2 linked regions of the Homo sapiens genome follow. The protein of the gene in region 1 purifies or fractionates together with the protein of each later gene. This does not show direct contact. Each region holds a gene or a part of one and is shown in the gene's direction. Other genes may lie near its edges.

What was found.
Region 2: the proteins of CARHSP1 (region 1) and IMPA2 fractionate together in Homo sapiens (co-fractionation; one large-scale study listed by BioGRID). This does not show direct contact.

Annotation. Positions count from the first base shown.
Region 1 is NC_000016.10:8,866,628-8,870,526, reverse strand, and holds the start of CARHSP1 (calcium-regulated heat-stable protein 1), read left to right. Parts: upstream 1-1,520; 5' UTR 1,521-1,561; intron 1,562-1,807; exon of another isoform or gene 1,808-1,995; intron 1,996-2,125; exon of another isoform or gene 2,126-2,478; intron 2,479-3,098; exon of another isoform or gene 3,099-3,275; intron 3,276-3,899. UniProt on the Homo sapiens protein: Binds mRNA and regulates the stability of target mRNA. Binds single-stranded DNA (in vitro).
Region 2 is NC_000018.10:11,979,711-11,983,609, forward strand, and holds the start of IMPA2 (inositol monophosphatase 2), read left to right. Parts: upstream 1-1,796; 5' UTR 1,797-1,959; coding exon 1,960-2,055; intron 2,056-3,899. UniProt on the Homo sapiens protein: Phosphatase that can use myo-inositol monophosphates, myo-inositol 1,4-diphosphate, scyllo-inositol-1,4-diphosphate, glucose-1-phosphate, beta-glycerophosphate and 2'-AMP as substrates in vitro.

The DNA of each region.
Region 1 (3,899 bases):
TCCCGAGTAGCTGGGACTACAGGGGCCCGCCACCGCGCCCGGCTAATTTTTAATATTTTTAATAGAGACGGGGTTTCCCCGTGGTCTCGTTCTCCTGACCTCGTGATCCGCCCGCCTCGGCCTCCCAAAGTGCTGGGATTACAGGCGTGAGCCACCGCGCCCGGCCTATTTATTTATTTTTAACTTTTTTTCCCCCCCGAGACGGAGACTCGCTGTCGCCCAGGCTGGAGTGCAGTGGCATGATCCTGGCTCACTGCAACCTCCACCTCCCGGGTTCAAGTGATTCTCCTGCCTCAGTCTCCCAAGTAACTGGGATTACAGGCACCCGCCACCAAGCCCGGCAAATTTTTGTATTTTTCATAGACACGGGGTTTCGCCATGTTGGCCAGGCTGGTCTCCAACTCCTGAGCTCAAGTGATCCTCCTGCCTCGGCCTCCCAAAGAGCTGGAATTACAGGCGTGAGCCACCGCACCCGGCCTCAAGTAAATTTTTGTGTGGACAAACATTTTTATTTCTCTTGGGCGCGCAGACACCTAGGAGTGGAGTTGATGGGTTTTATGGAGACTCCAGGGCTCGTGGTTTGAGGAACCGCCGGGCTTTTTCCACAGCAGCTGCGCGGTTGTTCCCACCAGCCGTCTAGGACGGTTCCTTGCCTGGCTTGGACTAGTTGGTTTCGCTGCTGGGCCTTTTCCCCAGTGGCCCCAATAGGGGCTGCAGAGTGAGGCAGGCACAGTCCTCACCGCCGCCTCCGGGGGCCCTGTTGTCCCGGGCGAGCTCCGGGGACCTCTCTCCTTCCCCGCGCCCCTCAAATACCAAGCTGACCCTGGTCCCGGGATCTAGGCTCGCCTTCAGGGGCTGCTCTCGACTGGCCGTGCCCATGGGCTGGTCGCCTCTCTGTGCCTCAGTTTCCTCTCCTGCAAAACAGAGGTAACATTTTTTACCTCCAAAAACAGAGGACTCAAGGAAGGCTAGAAATGAAACAAGAGAAGAGAACAAAATCAAAATCCCCAACGAGAAAACAAAACCCTGTTTTTCTGGTGTGTGTGTGCGTGTGTATTTTTTCTTTCCCTTTTCCTCCTTTCTGTTTTTTGCTTGTTTTCTTCCGTCTCTCTTTTCATTCCTTTATTTCCTTTCTGCTAAAAGTGACACCCTCCGGGATTATACAGATTTTAGAGCCAAAGGCAGGTGGGAGCCGCACCTGGCGCGCGTGGCGAGGGGAAGGAACTGCACGGGCGCAGGGACACAGTTCCCCCACTTTGCAGGGGCGTTTTCTGCTGGTGGGTGCAGCCCAGCTCCGCCCCGCCCCGCCCCGCCCCGGCCCCTACGTCCCGCGCTCTGCGTTCCGCTCTCCCGCCAGTCTAAGGCGCGGACACAAAGGTCCTGTCCGGGCCACTCCCGCCCCGCCCGCCCCCACCGTCCCGGGCTCCCTCCCGCAGCCCCATTGGCCGGGAGCTCCTGGGGGCGGGGATCGGCGCCCCACCCCCCCTCGGGCCACGCCCCCTCCCCAGCTCCGCGCTCTCAGTCGGAGCGAAGCGGCTGGCGGAGCAGAACGGATTGCAGGGTAGGGAGCTCTTCTCGGGGACCCCAGGATAGGCGCCCCTGGCCCGCGGCCCCGGGAGCCGCAGGGGTGGGGCCTCGGCCTCCTCTGCCTCCATCGTCCCCCATCCTGCAGGGTCTTCTAGCTCGGCAGAGGAGGGCTCCGGGCTGGGTTTCTCGGGGCCTGTTTGGGGAACGCGGGTTGCTCCTCCCCAGGGGAAGGGGTGGGTGTGGCAACAGCGGCAAGGATTCTAGGCGGACGTCGGGTAGTACTTCCCGCCTGGCCACCTGTTCTCTGCGTGCAGGGGAAGCTCTTCCCGCCCTCCCCGCTGCTTTTGCCTTTGGGCGGGAGCCCTGGACGGGGGACTCGCCGGGCGGTGGGGCGAGGCGCGGGGGGCGTCGCACGCGGGAAGCAGAGCCACCCCCCGCCGGGCCTGGCCGCGCCAGCTGTGGCTCGAGGTTGGGACGGCGGCCAGGCCCGGCGGGGGAGGTGGGGAGCCGTCCTGGCGCCGCGCGATTAGCCGCATCTGGGGGAGGAGGAGCCGCCGGGCGCGCTGGGCCCGGGTGTTTGCGCCCGGATGGGGGTGGGGGTGCCTTAGGCGCTGGAGAAAAACTTCACCCGCGCCCACAGGCCCCCTTTCCGCAGGCTGCGCTGGCGGTTCAGGTTTGCAGGCCGGAAGTGAAATGTTCTTTTTTGATTTTTAAAAAGGAAGCCTCCGGCCCTATGGTTTTCTGGGGTTGGAGTGGATGTGTGTGCTGGGGGAGGCGGAGACGTCCCGCTCCAGGCAGGGCCTTGGGTCTTAATAGGTGGGGAAATCTCTGCCAAATAGGAGGCCTCTCGGAGCCTCAGTTTCCCCATCTGCAGACTGGGCTCTGACTTCTTCTGGCATGAGAGGGTGTGTGAGAGTAAAAGGAGGCAGCTAGCCCCGTGCCGGGAGACACGTAAGCTACTGTTTTTTAACTTGCTGTTTTGATATTTCTCAGTCTCTCTGTGCCCAGTCTTGCTTGCCCCTGTCATTTGCTGCCACTCTGAAGCCAGAGGGAACTTAGAAAAACAATCCGCTTAGATCTACCCCACGCTGAAAATCGTCCACCGAAGTCCCATTGTCGTCTAAGTCCCCAACTTCTCAGCAGGGCTTCCTGTTATCTTCCGCCACTACCTTCTCCAGCCTCTCTCTGCCTCTGTTCTCCCTCCCTTCGGGCCTTTGGCCCTCCTCTGGGCTCGGGGTCCTCCTTGGAGACCCCACCGCCCTCTGCACTCCCTGGGTGGCCTCGGTGATGACCGTGAGTTCTCGATGCTGGTCCCTTCAGGGCAAGAAAGAGGCGCAGAGCCCGGCTGGGAGTAGATGTTTTCAATGAGCTGAGCTAGGCCTGGCGTGGGGCCATGGGGTGGGGTTGAGGGTGGTTGACGGTGGGTCCCCTAGGTAGGGGATCGGTCTTTGTTCCACCGAGTGGCAAAGCCAGCGCATTTGGTTTGTGTTCCATCAGCAGGGGCAGGAATGGGAGGGAAGGTGATTTCAGATGGGCCCGTGCCTGACACTTCCACCATCAGCCGCACTATTGTGGACTGAGCCCGCCGTGCGCTTGGCATTTTCGCGGCACCATCTGCACAGCGTCCGAGCCCTGCGACGCAGCACCGCTCCTGTCCCCTTTGACAGATGAGGAAACTCGGGTGGGGCGGTGAAATCGCCTGGCAGGGGTCACAGAGGGAGTGGGGACCAGTCAGGGCTCAATCTCAGGTCTGAGCCAAAGCCCCCCGAGAATGGAGGGAAGGATGGAGGGATTGAGTGGGGGAGGCGTGTAGAGTAGGGTTCTTGTTGAGAAGGAGGGCTTGGGCTTCCCGCAGGAGGGGCAGTCCAGGCTGAGAACTGGGGCGGGCGCAGGGTCCCAGGTGGGTGGTGGCGGTGGGGTGACCGTCTCCCTGCTGGGTGGGGTCGCCCGTCCGGTCGAGGCCGTCCAGGGGTGCTAATGGGGGCACAGGCAATGGCAATGTTGGAGGCCCCCTTGGGTTCCCGGTACACTCCTCGGGTTTCCGGCCTCTTCCCAGCACTCAGGGGCTCCTGAGGGCGGAAGAGCTATTCCCAGCTTGGCGGGGCCTGGGAGGGGGCTCTGGGCAGACGTAGGCGCCGGGCTGCACCTTCCCTGCCCGCCTGTTTGCACTTCTCTGTGACTGTTGGCTTCAGGTCCTTAGCCAGCGGAGGGCTGACTCCGGCCTGGCTGCCCCCTCCCCTTTGCCTCCCGTCCCTCCCCCTGGACACTCCAACCCCCATCCCTTCGTGTCCCTCCCCCTCCTCTCTCTCTGCTCCTCCCTCGCCAGACCCCCCGCTCTCCCCGGAACAATGGAGGGGAATGTGGCTAGGCCA
Region 2 (3,899 bases), on another chromosome or scaffold:
AGACACCTGCCATCACGCCCAACTAATTTTTGTATTTTTAGTAGAGACGGGGTTTCACCTTGTTGGTCAGGCTGGTCTCGATCTCTTGACCTCGTGATCCGCCCGCCTCGGCATCCCAAAGTGCTGGGATTACAGGCGTGAGCCACCGCACCCGGCCTCTGTCTTAAACATCATAAAAACATAAGAACCCAAAAAAGATGGAGGGGAGTGCGCCCTTAGCTGCCCCAAACTGGCGTGGTGGGAGGCAGGGCAATTGGTCTAGTTTTCTGAGCCGTAGGATTAGGGCTCTGGGTGAGGCCAGAGTCCCTAAAGTTGTACCCATATCTGCGTGTTTGTATTTCCTGTTTGTAATTCCTCCTGTTTGTACTTTTTGTCTCTTATACGGTACACTTAAAGTTTCTCCACAAGGTGTTTCAGCATAAAGTACTCAAAAACTAAAAACGTTTAATTTCATTATTAGGTTAAGTGTGTAAAAAATGCCCCATCAAGGTTCTTGTACAAACTCCCATTATTCTCCCAGACTCCGAAGTGGCACTCCAGAATAATTTTACGTGGGTTAGCATCTTTTATAAAACGGGCAGGCAGAGCGGCTTATGAAATTAACCTTGGAAACCACGCGGCCACTCTTTCGGGAAATGCCTCCTATTTATGTTTACATGGGCCAGCAAGAGAATCCAAGGTTGGAAAGGTCATTCCTCACTACAGAGGCTCATCGCAATCACAGTTCCGTCTCCAAATTCGAGTTTTGGGTGTGAAGAGTTTATAAAGTCCAGCCGCTGTCCTCGCAGTGTTTGGGGTTAGCGGAGGGAGAGCTTGTTTGCGACCAAACTTGCCGCGCGGGGCGGCCGCTTGCAGGAACACTGCGGCCTTGTGCGCTCGGCGGTCTGAGCTCCTGCGAGGCCGAGAACGACGCCTAGCGCCCAGCGGCCTCCGCGAACAAAAAGCGACCGGTCGGAAGGTGCTGGCCCAGCCGCCCCTGGCGCTCGAGCCCGAATCCGGCCACAGACCATGAAGGGACGCCCGGCACCACGTGCGCGGGGATCCGCGGACGGGACGCTCCCCGGCACCTCCGGGGCTGGGCCGGCACCGCACGGTCCCACCCAGACAGTAGCTGCCCCGGGCCCCCAAAACAGCCGCTCCTAGCTCCTCCCTCCCAGCTCTGCGGTGGCCCAAGCCGCCCTCCGCGCGCTTGACCCAGAACAGTACGGAGTTCTGCACGAGCCGGGGGTGGGGCCTGTCTCAGCGCGCGGCGGTGGGGCGGGGCTTGGACACGGGCCCGGCTCAACTTGAGGGAGGCGGGGCTCGAGGCTCAGAGGAGTTGGAGCCCGCTCTGCGCGCTGCGGGACGGGGCACGGCGGAGCAGGGTTGGGTCCGCCTCGAGCGGGGAGGGTGATGCTGCACCACAGGGGCGGGGCTGGAGGTAAAGCGCGGAGCGGAGAGGGACCAGGCTCGGCACTGATTTGTGTTCAGGGCTAGCCCAGAGGGGCGGGGCCAGGTACGGGGCGCAGCCGGGAGCGGGAGGGGCGGTGCAGGACGGGGCCGGGCACGGCGCGGGAAGAGGCCAGGAGCAGCAACGGGTGCGGGGCGGGGCCGGGAGCGTCAAGGGGCGGGGAAGAGGGGGGAATGGGCGGGGCCGAGCTCTGCGAGGGGCGAGGTGGGGAATGCAGAGCGGGGCCGGACGCGGGAGCAGGGAGCTGGGCGGGGAGCGGGGCGGGGAGCTGGGCTGGGCTCGGCACGGGGCGGGGCGGAGGGTGGGGAGCGGAAAGCAGGACGCACGGCTCCCGCGGCCCGCTGGCTGCCCTTCCCGCCAGCGCAGGTGTGGGACGGGCGGCGGACTAGGCACAGAGCTGCGGGAGCAGGCACAGGGAGTGTGGAGCCTGGCGGCGGGACGGCGGGATCCGGTGGGAGCCGGAGTCCCGCCGAGGGGGGCTGGAGGTGGAGGGGCCCGGCGAGGCCGCGATGAAGCCGAGCGGCGAGGACCAGGCGGCGCTGGCGGCCGGCCCCTGGGAGGAGTGCTTCCAGGCGGCCGTGCAGCTGGCGCTGCGGGCAGGACAGGTGAGCGCCACGGCTGGGCTCGGAAGTCCGGGCGGAGCAGAAGCGCGTGGGCCTTGGGAGCCGCCTGGAGTGGCGGGGTCCTGGCGCGCAGCCGGCGGGCGCCCAGGGTCCGCACCCGAGGGCGCGGGGCGCGGAGCGGTGAAAGGAGCCTTTGTGCTGGTGTCCTGGACACACCTCCCGCGCCCTTCTCCAACTCCCGGAGCCCTGGCGGCGAGCCCCTCTGCTTTGGAGTTCAGCGGCTAACGTGACCTTTGCGTTTGAGTGAGTGGTCAGAATGTAGAAATCTCTCCAGGGGTAGCGTACGGGGCTGTTGATTTTTAAGGACCTATGAACGGATTCAGCTCGCGGTAGGAAGCCCGGGGCTAAGCCCCAGCCGCGTGGGGATCTGGCTGGGCTGCCGTTTGATTGTCCTGGCTGCAGCATCCTCAACCCAAACTTACTCTGACCCACACCCTGAAAGTGGCTCAGCTCCGCGACGGCCACGGACTCAGAGTTCAGGAGGAACTTGTTACACTGCCCGGAAGGATGAAAACCGAGCCGCAGAGCTACCGAAAACCAGCGAGCAGAGTTTAAAATGGAGTGCAGTTCCTCTCTTCTCTTTTTCATTTTTGTGATTGTTCCTTCCACTTTCCTCAGTACCTTTAGCAGTGCCTGACACACCGACGGTAGTGGTAGGCAAGCGAGTGTTGGTTCTCCCAGGACTGTAAGATGGCTTACTCCATGTTTGTCTCTTAGGATGTGATTGTGGGCCGGGCGCAGTGGCTCACGCCTGTAATCCCAGCACTTTGGGAGGCCGAGGCGGGTGGACCACTTGAGGTCAGGAGTTCGAGACCAGCCTGACCAACATGGTGAAACCCCGTCTCTACTGAAAATACAAAATTAGCTGGGCATGGTGGCGCGTGCCTTAGTTCCAGCTATTTGGGAGGCTGAGGCAGGAGAATCACTTGAACCTGGGAGGCGAAGGTTGCAGTGAGCTGAGATCGCGCCATTGCACACCAGCCTGGGCAACAAGAACAAAACTCCGTCTCAAAAAAAAAAAAAAAAAGTGATTGTTTTCGGGGATTTTAGAGACAGGAGGTGTGCTGAGAGCAGATTGGCCTTTTATATTCAAACATTTGTTTTCTTTTTTGAGGTCTGACAGTCCGAAAATGCTCTACCAGTTTCCCTAGATGTTGAAATCGGACTGTTATCAATCTTAAATTTGAAGTGAGTCGTCATAAAGTGGATAGTGCTTTACCTTGGTGCAAATCCTCTAATCCTGTTTAAAAATTAATCTGCAATACTAAGTAGACTCATTTTTTGTTGAAGGGCCTTCCTTCCCTTTGTAGTTTGAAGAACCCAAGCCTCAGACCGTAAAGAATGAATGAATTTAAGAGTGTTGCGAAACTCCACCCTTTGACCTTTCCCTCCTGTAGGAAAAGGAGGACCCTAAACCTTCCTGCAAGGCAGATGAAGCTTGTAGCTTCAGTGCAAGCGTTCTTCCTGGAAAGCAGAGCTGCTGTGTGCATGGAACACGGGTTCTCCTTCCATCCTTCCCTGCCTCCCAGCTTTCCTTCCAGAGCAAGCATCAGCCAGATATTTAGGAACTTTTAGGTTCTACTGTAAAACTTTTCTTCCTTGAGGCAGTGAAAAGCCAGCTTAGGATTCAGACATTGCTGTGTAAACCCTGGCGAGCTAAGTTAGGAGTTTCTGTGGTTTTCAAATTTAGATCCTTGAAGAAACAGAAGATTTTAAAATTTTATGTTATTATTTAACAAATGTGCATAAAGAGCTTGCAATAGAGCAGGAACAGTTCTAAGGCTCCTATGACTTTTAACTTAAGAGATATTTTATGTTTTTGCAAC